Linked DNA regions of Homo sapiens: region 2 is linked to region 1. Evidence: fine-mapped expression QTL. Tissue or cell type: whole blood. Region 1 holds a variant in brackets; the other region holds the start of a gene. All regions are shown on one strand. Distances are from middle to middle.

Region 1 (8,105 bases):
GGATTACAGGTGTTCACCACCACACTCAGCTAATTTTGTATTTTTAGTACAGATGGGGTTTTTGCCATGTTGGTCAGGCTGGTATTGATCTCCTGACCTCAGGTGATCCACCTGCCTCGGCCACCCAAAGTGCTGGGATTATAGGTGTGAGCCACTGTGCCTGGCCTCACTTCTGGTTTCATATATTGGCTTCATGACGTCAATCAGGAAAGAGCTCACCTTTTGATATAACTGGGATCCCTAGTAACAACATGGGAGTGTAGTGACTTCTCCGAAGATCACCCAGCTAGTGAGTGACAGACTCAGGATTGAGACCCAGGCACTTGAGTTCCAGAGTCCACGCTTCTAGTCACTATGCTGTTTTATCTCTGGATGCTCAATAGCTGGTTAACAGTCTGACTCCAGGGTTCAAAGAGAGCTCTGGATTCTTCCAGGCATTACATTGTATATTTGTTAAATTCCACCAGAAAGCCCTTTATCTCCATAAGGAGAAGACTTTTCCCTTTGTTTGGCCATATTAGGAGCTGCAGGGTTGAGCAAAGTGTTCTGATCTGATGGTCTGTCTGAAGGTTGGCAGCTCCTCTCAGAATCCTCCACTTAGAGCAGAGGATCCCACCTTTCACAAGCCTGGCTCAGCCAGCCAACACAAACAGGGAAATGAATGTGAAAAATAGTGGGTAGCCGTGAGGGCCTTCCAAACAACAGCAAGAATTCACCTTCTCTGGCTTTGAGACTCTGGATGAACGAGTAAAGTGCATTGCACCACTCACCTTGTATTCTATTTAAATGGTGCACTCTGGAGTTGCTTCGTGTTGGCATACCTCATTGTCACCCACTTAGCATCAGTTTCCTGTTTTCCTGTGGACTGCTGTTCGAGTCACTGCATCAGTATTTGGCATCACTTTTTGTGTTAACTTGATCATAATAAGATCCTCCATTCTGTTCTTACCTCATTAAACAGGATTTGGAATCTTACCCAGTGTTTTGCATTGCCACTTTTATTTGGTGATGCTGGCATAGTGTAGGTGCCCGACTCAATATCTCAGAGGGGAAGAGGTGAAGAAGGAAAAAAAGATCTCAGATTGCAGGTGAGGCTTCTGCAGGAAGCTGGGAGGGAGTGGCCCTGATAGGCATTGCTTTGTTGGTTTATGGGACCTTAGATGGGAAATAAAAAGAATGCTCAAGCTCCCTCCAACCCTATCCTGAGAAACCTCTGTTATAGCCAGGATGAAATCTGTAAGATATTAATATGTATTTCAAGATGTATGTCAGTGTCCTTGACTTATGGTTGAATTCAACCATAGATAGTGTAAATGGACAGATGTACAATTCCAGAACATCTCATTGAAATAAAAGCTTTATTTCTTTCAGGTTCAGATTCATATGTGTAGCATACTTCCTATGTTCCAGGCTCTCTTATGACAGTTTTTAAAAGTATTTATTTGTACAGTATTCCAGATGTTAACAGCCTGGGTGTTCCTAGGATCTTTGTCATACTGGGGTCATCTTGGCCTTTAAAATTTATTTTTATTTTTAATTAATTTTTTAAATTGTTATGAATTTAGGGGTACAAGTGTAGTTATGTTACATGGATATATTGTGTAGTGGTAAAGTCTGGGATTTTACTGTACCCATCAACTATATACTGTACATCGTACCCGATAGGTAGTACCATAGTACCCCGTTCCCATCCACCTACCTTTTGGATTCCTCAATGTCTATTATTTCCATCTTTATGTTCCTGTGTGCCCATTGTTTAGCTCTGACTTATAAGTGAGAACATGCAGTATTTGACTTTCTGTTTCTAAGTTACTTCACTTAGGATAATGATCTCCAGTTCCATCCATATTGCTGCAAAACACATAATTTCATTCTTTTTTATGGCTGAGTAATATTCCATGGTCAATAGATGATTGGCTTTAATACAGTCATCTGTTGATGAACACTTAGGTTGATTTCATGACTTTGCCATTGCTTATAGTGCTGCGATGAACATATGAGTGCAGATACCTTTTTGATTAAATGATTCCTTTTCCTTTGGGTAGATACCCAGTAGTGGCATTGCTGGGTCAAAGGGTAGCTCTATTTTTAGTTTTTTGAGAAATCTCCATACTGTTTTTCATAAAGGTTGCACTAATTTACATTCCCACCAACAGTGTATATGTGTTTTCTTTTCTCTGCAGCCTCCTCAGCATCTCTTGTTCTTTGACATTTTAATAACAGCCATTTTGACTGGTGTAAGATGGTATCTCACGGTCGTTTTAATTTGCATTTCTTTGATGATTAGTGATGTTGAGCATTTTTTTCATATAATTTAAATAAAATTTGTGTTAGCTTTGTAAACATCAGAGTCCCAGGAGGAAAGAATGGCATACTCTATAGAGGTTAACTGGGAAACTCACACCTGGGTTTCTTGGCATTCCAAAAGTCTGCACATATGTTCTCTGTATGTAAAGCCTTCAATGAATGTTGGAAATGCCTTTTAGTATCTAGAGGAAGCATCCCAAGTAGTATAGGCTCAAGGACTAAGGAGCCAGTAGGAGTTGGTGAAGCACATGGAAATAGCACCAGCAGGGAGCTGTGACCAGCCTCAGGCACGAAGAAGAAGGGAAGGGAGAGACTAGCAGTGTTATTGGAAACTGAAACAGCTGTAGACATGGAAGAGGGCCAGCCAGCTAGGAGTGGTGGCAGTAGGTGGATTCAGGGCTCTATTGGGGGCCAGGACTAAATACCCCACCCTCTGAGCTCTTGCTGCTGCCTCCCATTGACTGCTCCTATCCAGCAGGCAGAGGGCGAGGGATGTCTGGTGATTCAATCTGTGGAGCTAATTATCCTCCTGGACACAGAACAGAGCTGTGAAGAGTGTGGAGTGGAACTAGGACACACTTCTACCTCATATGCAGTAGGAAATCCAATTTTTCAAGAGGTTCTTAGAGACCATAAAGCAGGAAAGGAGACCCAGAAGAAACTAGGTTATATGCCATCACAGACACCCCCTAAGATGTAGAGGGTGTCTGTGATGACATATAATCTAGTTAACCTAGCTTAAACTAACGAATATTTATTGCTGCCATGTAAGCAATAGTGAGAGGTCAGCCCCACATGGTCACTCAGGGACCCAGGCTAATGGTGCCCTATGTTCTTATAGGTTCCAGAGGGAACATGAAGCCTTCTCAGTGCTGAAGACGGAAGGGAAGTGTGCATGCCCTTTCCACTGCTTTGTCCTGGAAGTGACAGACATCATCTCTATTCACATTTTATGAGTCATCTCTTCTTTTCTTTTCTTTTTCGAGATGAAATCTCATTGTGTCACCCAGGCTGGAGTGCAGAGGCATAATTATAGCTCACTGTAGCCTTGGCCACCTGGGGTCAAGTGAGCCTCCTGCCTCAGCCTCCTGAGTAGCTGGAACTACAGGTGCACAGTGCCATGCCTGGCTATTAGGTTAATGCAAAAATAATCACGGTTTTTGTCATTGCTTTCAATCTACATTTACTTTTACTGCAATTGCTTTTGCACCAACCTATACTTTTTAATTTTTTTTGTAGAGACAGGGTCTCGCTATGTCACCCAGGCTGGTCTTAAACTCCTGGCTAGCTCTTATTTTTTAGCTTTGTTTCCCTGCCCTACTTGAAATCCTTTCCCCTCTCCTGGAATTTCTCCCCTCTCCCCACTAGATTCCTGTTTATTTCTTTTTTTCCTTTTTTTTTTTTTTGAGATGGAGTCTCGCTCTGTCACCCAGGCTGGAGTGCAGTGGCACCATCTTGGCTCACTACAAGCTCCGCCTCCCACAGGTTCACGCCATTCTCCTGCCTCAGCCTCCCGAGTAGCTGGGACTACAGATGCCCGCCACCACGCCTGGCTAATTTTTTGTATTTTTAGTAGAGATGGGGTTTCACCATGTTAGCCAGGATGGTCTTGATCTCCTGACCTTGTGATCTGCCTGCCTCAGCCTCCCAAAGTGCTGGGATTACAGGCGTGAGCCACTGCGCCCAGACTTCTGTTTATTTCTTATACAAACCAGTTAATTATCTGTTTTTTTCTTACCCTAGAGTAACCTGGCTTTGTTTAGAATGGCTCAGTTCATAAGCAAAAATATCTATTAAGTATATTCTCATGAAAGAATAGGTCAATTCACTTCTTGAGAGAACTCCTGAGGTTAGCTTAAAAAAAACACAAAACCTCATTTTTCCCCTGACTTACACTTTCTTTACTTAAAAATGGCTACATTAAGAGTTAGAGAGAAGCTCTAGGCTATTTACCTATGGCCACGTAGAATTTGACTCATATTTCTTGACTCTGTGTCCATAGCTCTTTCCTTTATCTGACACCATTTCTTTTCTATATTCTCTTCCTAGAAAAAAAAAAAAAAACGCTCTTCCCTTAACACCATCTGCCTGGCTTTTCTTTAATCTTGTGCAGTTCAGCTCTGCATATCAAGAAGCCAACACCTTGGTAAGAATCATTAATTTTCAGAAGCTTTTATTTCCGTGACTCCAAAGATAATTGCTAAAAATAGGTGTATTCCCTGCAAGATGCTGTTAAAATCAACTCGTTTTGTGGTCAGGCTTCCCAAAGGCACCAAGGCCGTGTTGAGAATGCAAGTGTTTTAGCAGCTGTGACAAACTTATCCCATGAACAGGCATGCAGTCAATAATTAGTTTTCAGAGGCAGCCTTTGGTACTCG[G/T]AGTTAGAAGCAGGTGGGTACACATGCCTGGAGATGCCCAGGTAGACTTGGAATTTCCCAAGAGGGGAACGTGCATCATTTTTCAAAAATGCAGGAGTGGCATGGGGAAAAGAAGTTAGCTGGGAAACTCACACCTAGGTTTCTTGGCATTACAAAAGTCTGCAAATATATTCCCTGTATGTGAAGCCTTCCATTAATGTTGGGAATGAATGCCTTTTAGCATCTAGAGGAGGCATCCTGATTAGCATAGGCTCAAGGTCTAAAAGAAACTAGAAGCAGGTTACAAGTGGGTACAGTTCTTAATTTCTGTAGTCCCCACTTAGGTCCGTAGAGGGAGGTAGTTCTGCTAATGCTTCTGTTTTCTTTGCAGTGTGGGGAGGAAGTTTATGCATTTGGGCAAGGCATGGCTTACTTCCTCATTGGGTGATCCAGAGGCAACTGTTACACTTTTCCCTCTCCCTCTGTCTGTGGTCATCCTTCCTCCACCTCTCCCTCTCTTCCTCCCTTCCTGTCTTTCTCTGTGCTTCTTTGTATCTGCCGTCCTTCCTCTTGTGGACCGATCTGCTCCCAGGTACAACGAGGACTGGCATTTCCTTCTTCTTGTAGAGACCAGGCAGACTCTTCTGTGTTTGCCTTTTCACACACTCTTCTGTGTTTACAGCTTTTCAACCTGTAACTGGGTGGGGAAATCTGGGTCATGCTGGTCTGAAAGTCTAGATTTGTAAGGGGAGCCATGCGATGCTCTCCAATTGAGCTTCATAAGGAAAACTAATTCTGCAGTTGATCCTCCTCTGGCTCTTTGAATGTTTCCCTCAAATAGGTTAGAATCCACAGCAGGAGGAAAGGGCATGACTAATGTCCCTGAATTTTCTGCACACGGATGGCTGGCTGGGAACTCTGAAAAGTTCTACATGAGGACTAGCCCTTGAAGACTAAGGACGATGTGGGGAAACACATTTCTTATTATATCACAATGTCACAGAGATATTTATATTTTTCTTGGGGTCAACAGGGGTTCATTCTCTCAGTGATCGGGGGTGAAGCCAGGTTGGGAAAGCAAGGGAAATTTGCCTCAACACAGGCTATTGCATGCAGTGGATGCACTTTTTAAATTTAAATTTATGGCTTTTTGCTAAGATCCATGGTTTAAAAAAAAAAAAAAAAAAGAGTATAGGCTGGGCGTGGTGGCTCATGTCTGCAATCCCTGCACTTTGGGAGGCCGAGGTGGGTGGATTGCCTTGAGCTCAGGAGTTTGAGACCATCCTGGCCAACATGGTGAAATCCCATCTCTACTAAAAATACAAAAATTATAATCCCAGCACTTTGGGAAGCCAAGGCGGGTGGATCACGAAGTCAGGAGATCGAGACCATCCTGGCTAACACGGTGAAACCTCATGTCTACTAAAAATGCAAAAAAATTAGCCGGGCGTGGTGGTGGGCGCCTGTTGTCTCAGCTACTTGGGAGGCTGAGGCAGAAGAATGGTGTGAACCTTGAGGGCAGAGCTTGCAGTGAGCCGAGGTTGCGCCACTGCACTCCAGCCTGGGCGACAGAGCAAGACTCTGTCTCAAAAAAAAAAAAAAAAAAATTAGCTGGGCATGGTGGCATGCACCTGTAGTCCTAGCTACTCAGGAGGCTGAGGCAGGAGAATTGCTTGAACCGGGAGGTGGAGGTTGCAGTGAGCTGAGATCGTGCCACTGCACTCCAGTCTGGCAAAAGAGTGAGATTCTGTCTCAAAAAAAAAAAAATTAAATTTTATCTATTTATCTTCTTTACATATATATTTTTGAGACAGGGTCTTGCCCTGTCACCCAGGCTGGAGTGCAGTAGTGCAATTATGGCTCACTGCAGCCACCTAATTTTTAAATTTTTTTGTAGAGATAGAGTCTCACTACGTCGCCCAGGCTGCTCTCAAACCCCTGGCCTCAAGTGATCCTCCCCACTCAGCCTCCCATATAGCTAAGATTAGAGGTGCATACTCTTTTTTTTTTTTTTTAAATTTCAACTTTTTTTTAAGACTCAGGGTATATGTGCAGCTTTGTTGGGTATATTGCGTAATGCTGAAGTTTGGGCTATAAATGATCTTTTCACCCAGGTAGTGAGCATAGCACCCAATAGGTAGTTTTTCAACACTTGCCCCATGAGTCCTTTCTCCCTCTGTTAGTCCCCAGTGTGTGTCACTCCCATCTGTATGTCCATGTGTAGCCAATGTTTAGCTTCCACTTATAAATGAGAACATGCAGTATTTGGTTTTCTATTCCTGCATTAATTCACTTAGCATAATGGCCTCCAGCAGCATCCATGTTACTGCAAATGATATTGATAGAAGCAGGAGGCAGATAAGGGAGGGCCCCGGGAGAATCTCTGACCCGCCCTACAAGTGTTTACATCAGATGCTTATGTGCAGATGAGCGAACTTGCTCAGGGCTTTCTGTGGACGTGCCCACCATGGACTGGGGGCCGGCCTGCACACTGGGAGAATGGGGTGGAGCCACTGGGGATTTGCACCTTATGCAGGAGGGAGGAGCCTGGCCTCTTCAGCTCCTGTGTGTGGTGGCCTGGTATTTAATCTGTGAGGTGGGAGCCTGTTGGCAGGACCTCTTCTTTTTTTCACTGGGAGATTTTTTTAAATAAATTCCACTCTTGACCGGGTGCAGTGGCTCACACCTATAATCCCAGCACTTCGGGAGGCCGAGGCGGGTGGATCACCTGAGGTCAGGAGTTTGAGATCAGCCTGCCCAACATGGTGAAACCTCGTCTCTACTAAAAAATACAAAAAAAAATTAGCTGGGCATGGTGGTGGGTACCTGTAATCCCAGCTACTTGGGAGGCTGAAGCAGGATAATCGCTTGAGCCCGGAAAGTGGAGGTTGCAGTGAGCCGAGATTGCGCCATTGCACTCCAACCTGGGCAACAAGAGCAAAACTCCATCTCCAAAAAAAAAAAATAATAATAATGAATAAAATAAAATAAAAATAACTTCCACTCTCCTCACCTTTCAATGTGTCTGCGTGCCTAATGTTTCCTGGTTGTGTGACAAGAACCCAGATTTTAGCTGAACTAAGGAGCAAAAGATACTGCATCAATAAGACTTCAATCTTTTTTTATGGCTGTGTAGTATTCCATAGTGTAAATGTACCACATTTTCTTTATCCAACCCATTGTTGGTAGGCACCTAGGTTGATTCCATGTCCTCGCTATTGTGAATAGTGCTGCAATGAACATACAAGTGCAGTTATCTTTTTGGTAGAATGATTTATTTTCCTTTGGGTATATACCTATAGTGTGACTGCTTGGTTGAGTGGTAATTCTATTTTTAGTTCTTTGAGAAATCTCCAGACTGGTTTCTACAGTGGTTGAACTAATTTACATTCCCACCAACAGTGTATGAGCGTTCCCTTTTCTCTGCAGTCTGGCTAGCAT
Region 2 (8,089 bases), 110 kb before region 1:
CTTGTTCCCTTTCAAACAGCTTTTTGACTTATTTATAGTCAGCCAAGAGCACATACACATGGCAGGACTGAAAAACACATGATGATTGTAGAATGTAGATCTTATTTTATTTTTTTGTAGAGAAAATGTGTTTGTCTCGCTATCTTGCCCAGGCTGGTCTTGAACTCCTGGCTTCAAGAGATCCGCCTGCCTCGGCCTCCCAAAGTGTTGGGATTACGACGTGAGTCACTGTGTCCAGCCATGGAGAGTTTACCACCACAGGATCTCATAGCTGGCCCAGGCAATCTAAGTTTCCCCAGTTTGGATCTTTTTTTTTTTTTTTTTGAGACAGGGTCTCGCTCTGTCACCCAGGCTGGAATACAGTGGTGTGATCACGGCTTACTGCAGCCTCAACCTCCTGGGTTCAAGCAATCCTCCTGACTCAGCCTCCTGAGTAGCTGAGACCACAGGTGCACGCCAACACACCTGGCTAATATTTTTTTTTTTTTTGCGATTTTGTAGAGACTGGGTTTTCCCATGTTGCCCAGACTCAGTTTCCATCTTTATGATACCTTTTCACTTATATTGCACATGTTCCTAATTCTTGAAGTGAATGAAACCTTTCTCCTATTCTGAATATGTATCAAGGAGGCCCTCCACTGCACATTCACAGCGTTGGGGTACTGCGGAAATCTGCCCCAGCCTCTGCACTAGGCGTGCTCCGAGTCTTCCCTCTTACCATTCTTGGGTAAGGGCCGACGTTCTCGCTTTCGGTTCAGCTGTTCCTGGTGTCCTGAGTGGAGGCTTCCAGGTTCCTCCCGAGACACCGCCCTGGGTTGGGTCTCCACCTGCTCTGGCTGGAAGTCTGCCACCTCCCACGCTGCTCCAAGTGGGGAGTGCTTCTCCCGGTGCACGGGACTGCTGACCTGAGAAATGAAGTCAATACCATAAGAGGGAGTAAAACAGGCCCATATCAGGGCGAAATTCTCCCAGGAAAGACATCAAAGAAGGACAGAGACATGAGAAGGAATGAAAATTCCACTCCATTCCCAGTGGAGTCTCTGAGAGCGCTGGGCTGAGAGTACTGTCCAGCAGTCTGGGTGTAAGGTAACAGAACAGTGTTCTTTTTTCTGAGACAGAGTTTCACTTTTGTTGCCCAGGCTGGAGTGCAATGGCACGATCTTGGCTCACTGCAACCTCCACCTCCCAGGTTCAAGCGATTCTCCTCTCTCAGCCTCCCAAGTAGCTGGGATTACAGGCATGCACCAACACAACCGGCTAATTTTATATTTTTTTAGTAGAGATGGGGTTTCATTATGTTGGTCAGGCTGGTCTCGAATTCCTGACCTCAGGTGATCAACATGCCTCGGCCTCCCAAAGTGCTGGGATTACAGATGTGAGCCACCGCGCCTGGCCAGAATAATATTTAATACTAAACAGAGAAGGAAATCTGTCAGGAGTGAAAGAGCCTCCTTGTTGCTAGAATAGATATTATTTGACTCTATATCTGTTACGTTCGCAAAGAAGTTACCAGGACATGAATATATACAGTAGTGAAATGAAAACTTACAAAATTAATATCCACATCTATCTGTCTATCCCTGACCAATACAGCAACCTGCTGATAGATCTCTACACAATGCAAGTCTGATGCAAGGTGAAACCGCAAATCTTGCAAATGCTGCAGGATTTCACGAGGTTCATGAAAGTGAGGTTGAAGAACAACTAGAAGAGCATGCAAGCCACTGAGAAATGAAGATGTGGCAGTTAGACTGGAGGAGAGTGACAGAAATGAAGGCATGAGAGCACTTCAGAAGACACTGAGTGCAACAGTAAAACGCTTGGAGACGGCTCTGGGATAACGGATGAAGTCTTTTTTTTTTTTTTTTAAAGGGGGAACAGAATAGCCTTTTTTGATCAAAATGCGTAAGTGAACCTCTGTGACGCAAAACCATATTGTTCTCTTATATTGTTTTGTTGCAAACATTATGCCAAAGATGACGATAAATGCTTAGGTGAATAATGTCTGGTTTCCATTGTAAGATAATATTTCAATCAAAGCTTTTATTTTTCTATTTCATGTGAAATTCTGATCCCCTTTTAAGTGGATTCACTTAAAGTGAAAAGACCCCCTTATAGGGTCTTTTATTAGTACCATTTATCTTTCTCTGAAGAGCACGTCTTTCTGCAATACATCCCTGCCCACATGCCTTTCCCATTCCCTTTTTTCTAAGTACAAAAATTTGGAAAATCCTCTCTCACCTGCTGTCTTAGTCTTCCAGTCTCTTTCTCCAAATGCACTACCAGGGCCACCGCTTCCTCTCCACTTTGCGGACACTGCTTCTGTGCCCAAGCCTGAATCTTCTCGGGTAAAATGGTGAGAAACTGCTCAATCACCAGCAGCTCAAGTATTTGCTCCTTGGAACGCATTTCTGGCTTCAGCCACCGGCAGCAAAGTTCCCAGAGTTTACTGAAAGCTTCATGGGGTCCAGTCACATCCTCATAACAGAATTGCCTGAAGCATTTGCGGAAGGTCTCAGAGCTATCCGATCCTTCCAGAATGGGCTCTGATGCCCACTCAGGGTCCTTTTCCACCTTCATTATTAGGCATCCCTCAACCTCCAGGGGCGCGTCGATCTGAGAGTCGAGGGCGACAGCCATGCTGCAGCCCAGGGGTCAACTTCACGTCTAGCTCAAGGTGGGGACCCAAAGAAGACTCCAAGCGCTCCCTGCTTAATGTTCCTGGGAGTGTGATAAGGTACGGAGGTAAAAACGGCCAGGTCGGCAGGAACAGGGTATTCCAGGCTGATTAATCAAATCTATGCCAGGCCCTTGAAAAGGTGAACGTATACTCTAAGATGCAAAAGCCTGGCCTCTTCTCCAAACAAGATGTGACCGCGCAATGTGGTTTTCCAGAGTGCATCCCTCTTAGTGCAAAGTCGGAAACCGGGAGGCTGGACGACTGGGAGAAAAATGAAGCAGGCTGAGGAAAGGCTGGGCGGAGGCGGACAGCCGGGCCGGGAGGGGGTGTGTCCGCTACTCCCGGGTCGGGCGCGGAGAGGCGAGTCCCCGAGTGGGTGGGGCCGGATGTGCAGGCCCCGCCCGGCGCCAGGTTCCGGGCTCGGGTCACCGCAGCACGTCCAGGCCGCCGCGGGTGCCGCTGGGGCCGCCGGATTCCGAGAGCGGCGCCGGGCTCTTTCGGGCCCACGACGGCCCCGACCGTCCTGAGGAAACCGCTGCCGCCGAGGAAAGGCCGCAAAAACTGTTCCGCCCGGAAGGGAGAAGAGCTGCGGGGCGAAGCCAGGGCTCGCAGGGGGCAGCGGCAGGCTGCTCGCGTTCGGCCTCGTCCACTCGGCCCGCGGAGAGCGCGGGGGGCGCTGGGAACCGCAGTCACGCATGCGCCGCCTGCCACCGAGCGCCGCGGGGCCCGCGCGAGGCGTCCTGGCGGGCGAGGGGCTGGGGGAGGGGGGGGGGGCCGTGCGGTGGACTCTCGCGAGAGCGCGCGGCGCGGTGACTCGTCGCTGAGGGACTTTAAGATTGTAGAGGGGCGCGGAGGGTCCTCCCCGGGGCGGAGGGACACAGAGGGATTCTAGGGAACCTGCCGTCGCGAGTCCCGCTTCAGGCGGAGAATCTAGGCGGCGGCGGGGCCTCCCTGAGGCGGAGGAGTCGGCACCGGGGCCTGGCTGCCGGGGAAGGAGAGCACGGGAGCGGGGACTCCTGTGTCTGGCGGAGGGACACGGCGTTCCGGTGGAGGGATCTGTTCCTTGTACCTGGTCCAGGGTTGCGGTCGGGGATGGAGCGGTTACCCCGACCCTGCGGGACCTTCTTCCTCTGGCGGAGGTGCACGGCGCGGCGTGGTGTTTTTCTGGCGGAAGTATCTGTGCGTGGCCCCAGGCCCTTCCCGGCGCGGTCTCATCTGGGGCCACTTGTTGGCCCTCGCGTTGGGGAGGTTCATGTGGTGCATCCTGATGAGAAGGGGGGTCACAGGGGTCTCGGGGCCAGGGTTCAGCCAGCCAGGCCCCAGCTTGCTCTCTTCTGGTGCTGCCCCTGTCCCTGAATTCATAGACCCGGCTTTCCCTCTCTTGAGCACCTACTATGTGCCAGGCTGCGCTTTGCGCATGTAGCAGAGGCAACAGTGTCACCTGGGAAGCTGGTTTCCCCCAAAGGAACTCTTGTCTGTCCGTTGTTGCAGAGCCAGCGCATGAGACCAAGTGTGAGTATCAGGCAGTGCAGCCTTCATTCAGTGGCCATGGAATTGGAGAAGTGGGAGGGTAGCTCGCAAATCAAGCTCTCAGCTCTTGGAAACTGAGAAGTTACAGGTAATAGGGAGTGTTGACGAAAAGTAAAACCGTGCAAAATATTTGAAGAGATTTATTGTGAGCCAAATACGAGTAACCACAGCCTGTGATACAGCCCTCTCGAGGCCCTGAGAACATGTGCCCAAGGTGGTCGGGGTGCAGCTTGGTTTTATGTTTTAGGTTGGCATGAGACATCAGTCAAATACATTAAATACATTGGTTTGGTCCAGGAAGGCGGGACAACGCAAAGGGGTGGGGGTGGGGGCTTCCAGGCTATAGGTAAATTTAAATATTTTCTAGTTGACAATTGGTTGAGTTTGTCTGAAGACCTGGGATTGATAGAAAGGAAGTGTTCAGGTTAAGATAAAAGATAGTGGAGACTAAGGTTCTTTTGAAGTCTTATGGTGGCTGCTCTTAGAGATAATAGATGACAAATGTTTCCTATTCAGATCTTCAAAAGGTGTTAGACTTTTAGTTAATCCGTTTAGGATTGGGAGGGCCTGGAAGAAAAACATCTAGCTATGTTAATAGATGTTCTTTACAGATGCACATTTTACCCCACAAAGGATAGCTTTTGGGGGAAAATGCTGTCCTTTATGGAAGAAATTGCAAAATAGGGCAAGGAAACATGTTTTGGGGTAAAATATTTTGACTTTCTTTTTGTCACGTAATGTTATGCCAGAGTCAGAATGGAAAGTAAGTCATCATATATAGGATTAAATAAAACCCATCTGATGAGAATTTATGGTTTGTAGGTCATGACTCCCCAGATCCCTTAGATAGGAATTTGGGCAGGATTAAAAAAATCAAGAGTTTAGGCTGGTCGTGGTGGCTCACGCCTATAATCCCAGCATTTTGGGAGGCCAAGGCAGGTGGATCGCTTGAGGTCAGAAGTTTAAGACCAGCCTGGCCAACATGGCGAAACCCCGTCTCTACTAAAAATACAAAAATTAGCTGGGCATGGTGGCACACGCCTGTGATTCTAGCTGATTGGGAGGCTGAGGCATGAGACTCAACTTGAACCCGGGAGGCGGAGGTTGCAATGAGCTGAGATTGTGCCACTGCACTCCAGCTTGGTTGACAAAGTGAGACTCTGTGTCAAAAACAAAACAAAACAGAAAAAAAAAACAAAAGAATCAGAGCTTAGTCGTCAGGTGTCCTTAATGAAGGGGCTGGGCATTAAGAGCAAGGCGAGGAGGCAGAAGGAAAGCTTGAGCCCAGGAATTGGAGACCAGCTTGGGCAACATGGTAAGACCCTGTCTCTAAAAAAAATAAAAATTAAGAACAAGAGGAGGAATATTCATGTTTTTTCTTGGGAAGGGAGGTAGATTTTCCTGGAATCAAGGAGCTGCCCCTTTTTTTGTCCTTTTTTTGGTCTCTTCGGGTCATCACGGTGATTGTCAACTGTCATGGCAACCAGTGGGAATGTCATTTAGTACTGAAGTTGGATTAGAATGAAGCTAGAGGTTCTTCAGAGGTCGAGTAAGCTAAGAAGGAACCTATGACCACAGACAACCTGTTTTCTAAAAATAAGCAGAGTTAAATCTGAGTAGGAATTTAGCTATGTCATGGAGGCATTGCATTGGGTAACAAAAGCCAGGTAGGCGTCCAGCTAAGTCCCCTAGGCCCTGCAACGGGTAACAGCAGTACTGACTCTATGTTAGAGAAAAGCTTGCTTGCTTGAGTATAATTATTGTTTTGCCTGAGTTTGTAAACTATTCACTAAAAACAGCCACAGAAAAAAACAGGACCTTCTTCAACAGATAAAACACACAGACCCGCAGCTTTGGGAACAGGCTGATGGCCCCTGCACAGTCTAGTCACAAGGCATTGACCAAGAAAGTAATGACTAACTGCCCATCTGAGACTGCGCATGATTCACAAGAATGTTTCTTTGTTTTGTTTTTTGAGACAGTCTTGGTCTGTCTCCCAGGCTGGAGTGCAGTGATGTTGGTTCGCTGTAGCCTCTGCCTCCTGAGTAGCTGGGACTACAGGCGTGTGCCACCGCACCTGGCTAATTTTTGTATTTTTAGTAGAGATGATGTTTGACTATGTTGGCCAGGATGGTCTCGAACTCCTGACCTCAAGTGATCCACCTGCCTCGGCCTCCCAAATTGCTGGGGTTACAAGTATGAGCCACCGCTCCTGGCCCACAAGAATGTTTTGATCATTATTTCTCCTAATTTTCCTTAAAATCCCTGGATCTAGAGGCACAACTGAGAAAGGTGGTCTTTGAATGCTAGTGCACTGCCTTTTGCAGGTTGCTGGTTTCTCGAATAAAGCTAACTTTGCTTTCACCAAAGCTTGTCTTTTGAGTTTTTGGCTTTCAGGCGACGAGTGGCCTGGACACCAGTTCGGCTACATGTATGTCAGTGGGCAAAACAAAAATCCTTATTCTGGGAGGTAGATAGCTTATTAGAAAACACAACCTAATCACTTGTTTCCCAAATGTTAAAAATTGAGCCAATTTTAGCCCCAGAAGCTTAGGGTACCATGTACATAACAGGCATTACCTGAGGGTGGGGCAGAGAGAATCAGTGGGGTACCTCGTATATGCCAGGGGTTGTATCAGCATCCTTACACAGCTCATTTTTCTTTTTAAATAATACTTATTGAGGACCTATTTAATGCCAGATATGGTGGTAGGTAGGGAGCAAAAGCAGGATTCCCCTCCCATTATTGAGTTTTCAGTCTGGTGGGAGAGGCAGGAATTAAATAAGTAATCCACAAACTCAAGTACAATTCTAAGGGAGATGGGTGCCACCAAGAAGAGACATGGTGCTGAGAACCTATGTCTGTCAGAGGGATTTGATCTATTTGGGAGGTCTGGAAAGGTTTTTTTGAAGAAGCAGTGCTAGGGGTGAGATCCAAAGGAGAAGAGCTAATTAGGCAAAGCCTAGTCCTCACAAAAATCCTATAAACCAGATATGATTACCTTCATTTTAGAGTTTAGGGCATTGAGACTTGAGCAAGGTGATGTCACTGCCCAAGGTTACATCAGATTAAATGGCAACCCAGGATTCAGATTCAAATAAGAGTAGGGTTCTTTATATTCTCCTTGGGCTATTTGGTGGTTTTAGGAGAGGCAAGTATCACAAACAGCTTGGGGACATGAGGGAGCAGGAATCACAAACTTGAAAGCCTGCAGAGCTCAGGCAGATAGCATAGAGTGAAGTAGGGCAGAGTGTAAGACAATAGGGGATGGTGGGGAGTGTGGTGAGCTGAAGGCCACATTTCCTGTCTAAAGGAAGCAGCCACTAGTTCCAGTCTCTTGTTGCCATGCAGGATTACAGACCAAGCCCTGCTGGATCTTCTGATGATATTATTTTGAGGGCTTGGCGCGGTGGCTCACGCCTGTAATTGCAGCACTTAGGGAGGCCGAGGTGGGCAGATCACAAGGTCAGGAGATCGAGACCATCCTGGCTAACATGGCGAAACCCTGTCTCTACTAAAAATACAAAAAATTAGCTGGGCGTGGTGGTGGGCGCCTGTAGTCCCAGCTACTCTGGAGGCTGAGGCAGGAGAATAGCGTGAACCCGGGAGGTGGAGCTTGCAGTGAGCCGAGATCGCGCTACTGCACTCTAGCCTGGGCAACAGAGCGAGACTCCTTCTCAAAAAACAGGCTAGAGTGCAGTGGTGCAATCATAGCCCACTGCAGCTGGGACTGCAGACACATGCCACTACCCGGCTAATTTTTATATATTTTTTTCAGAGACAGGGTCTCACTATGTTGCCCAGGCTGGTCTGAAACTCCTGAGCTCAAGTGATCAGCCTGCCTTGACCTCCCGAAGTGCTGGAATTACAGGCGTGAG

What was found. PIP is the estimated chance that this variant, and not a neighbour inherited with it, causes the effect.
Region 2: ZKSCAN2 starts here. The variant in region 1 is fine-mapped to the expression of ZKSCAN2 in whole blood (TOPMed, PIP above 0.99). The same link has a PIP of 0.9 or more in tibial nerve.

Annotation. Positions count from the first base shown.
Region 1 is chr16:25,361,243-25,369,347 of GRCh38, forward strand. No RefSeq gene overlaps it. Among named protein-coding and RNA genes, the nearest start is that of LINC02191, 68 kb to the right of the region's middle. The variant G/T (reference allele first, on the strand shown) is at 4,686.
Region 2 is chr16:25,254,488-25,262,576 of GRCh38, forward strand. It overlaps ZKSCAN2 (zinc finger with KRAB and SCAN domains 2), which reads right to left and starts at 3,358. Exons shown (of 7, transcript NM_001012981.5): 1 at 2,242-3,358; 2 at 719-905. The coding sequence starts at 2,640. It overlaps ZKSCAN2-DT (ZKSCAN2 divergent transcript), which reads left to right and starts at 3,090. Exons shown (of 1, transcript NR_170220.1): 1 at 3,090-6,579. RefSeq lists enhancers at 2,724-3,284, 3,700-4,019, 4,140-4,219 and silencers at 2,970-3,209, 3,290-3,489.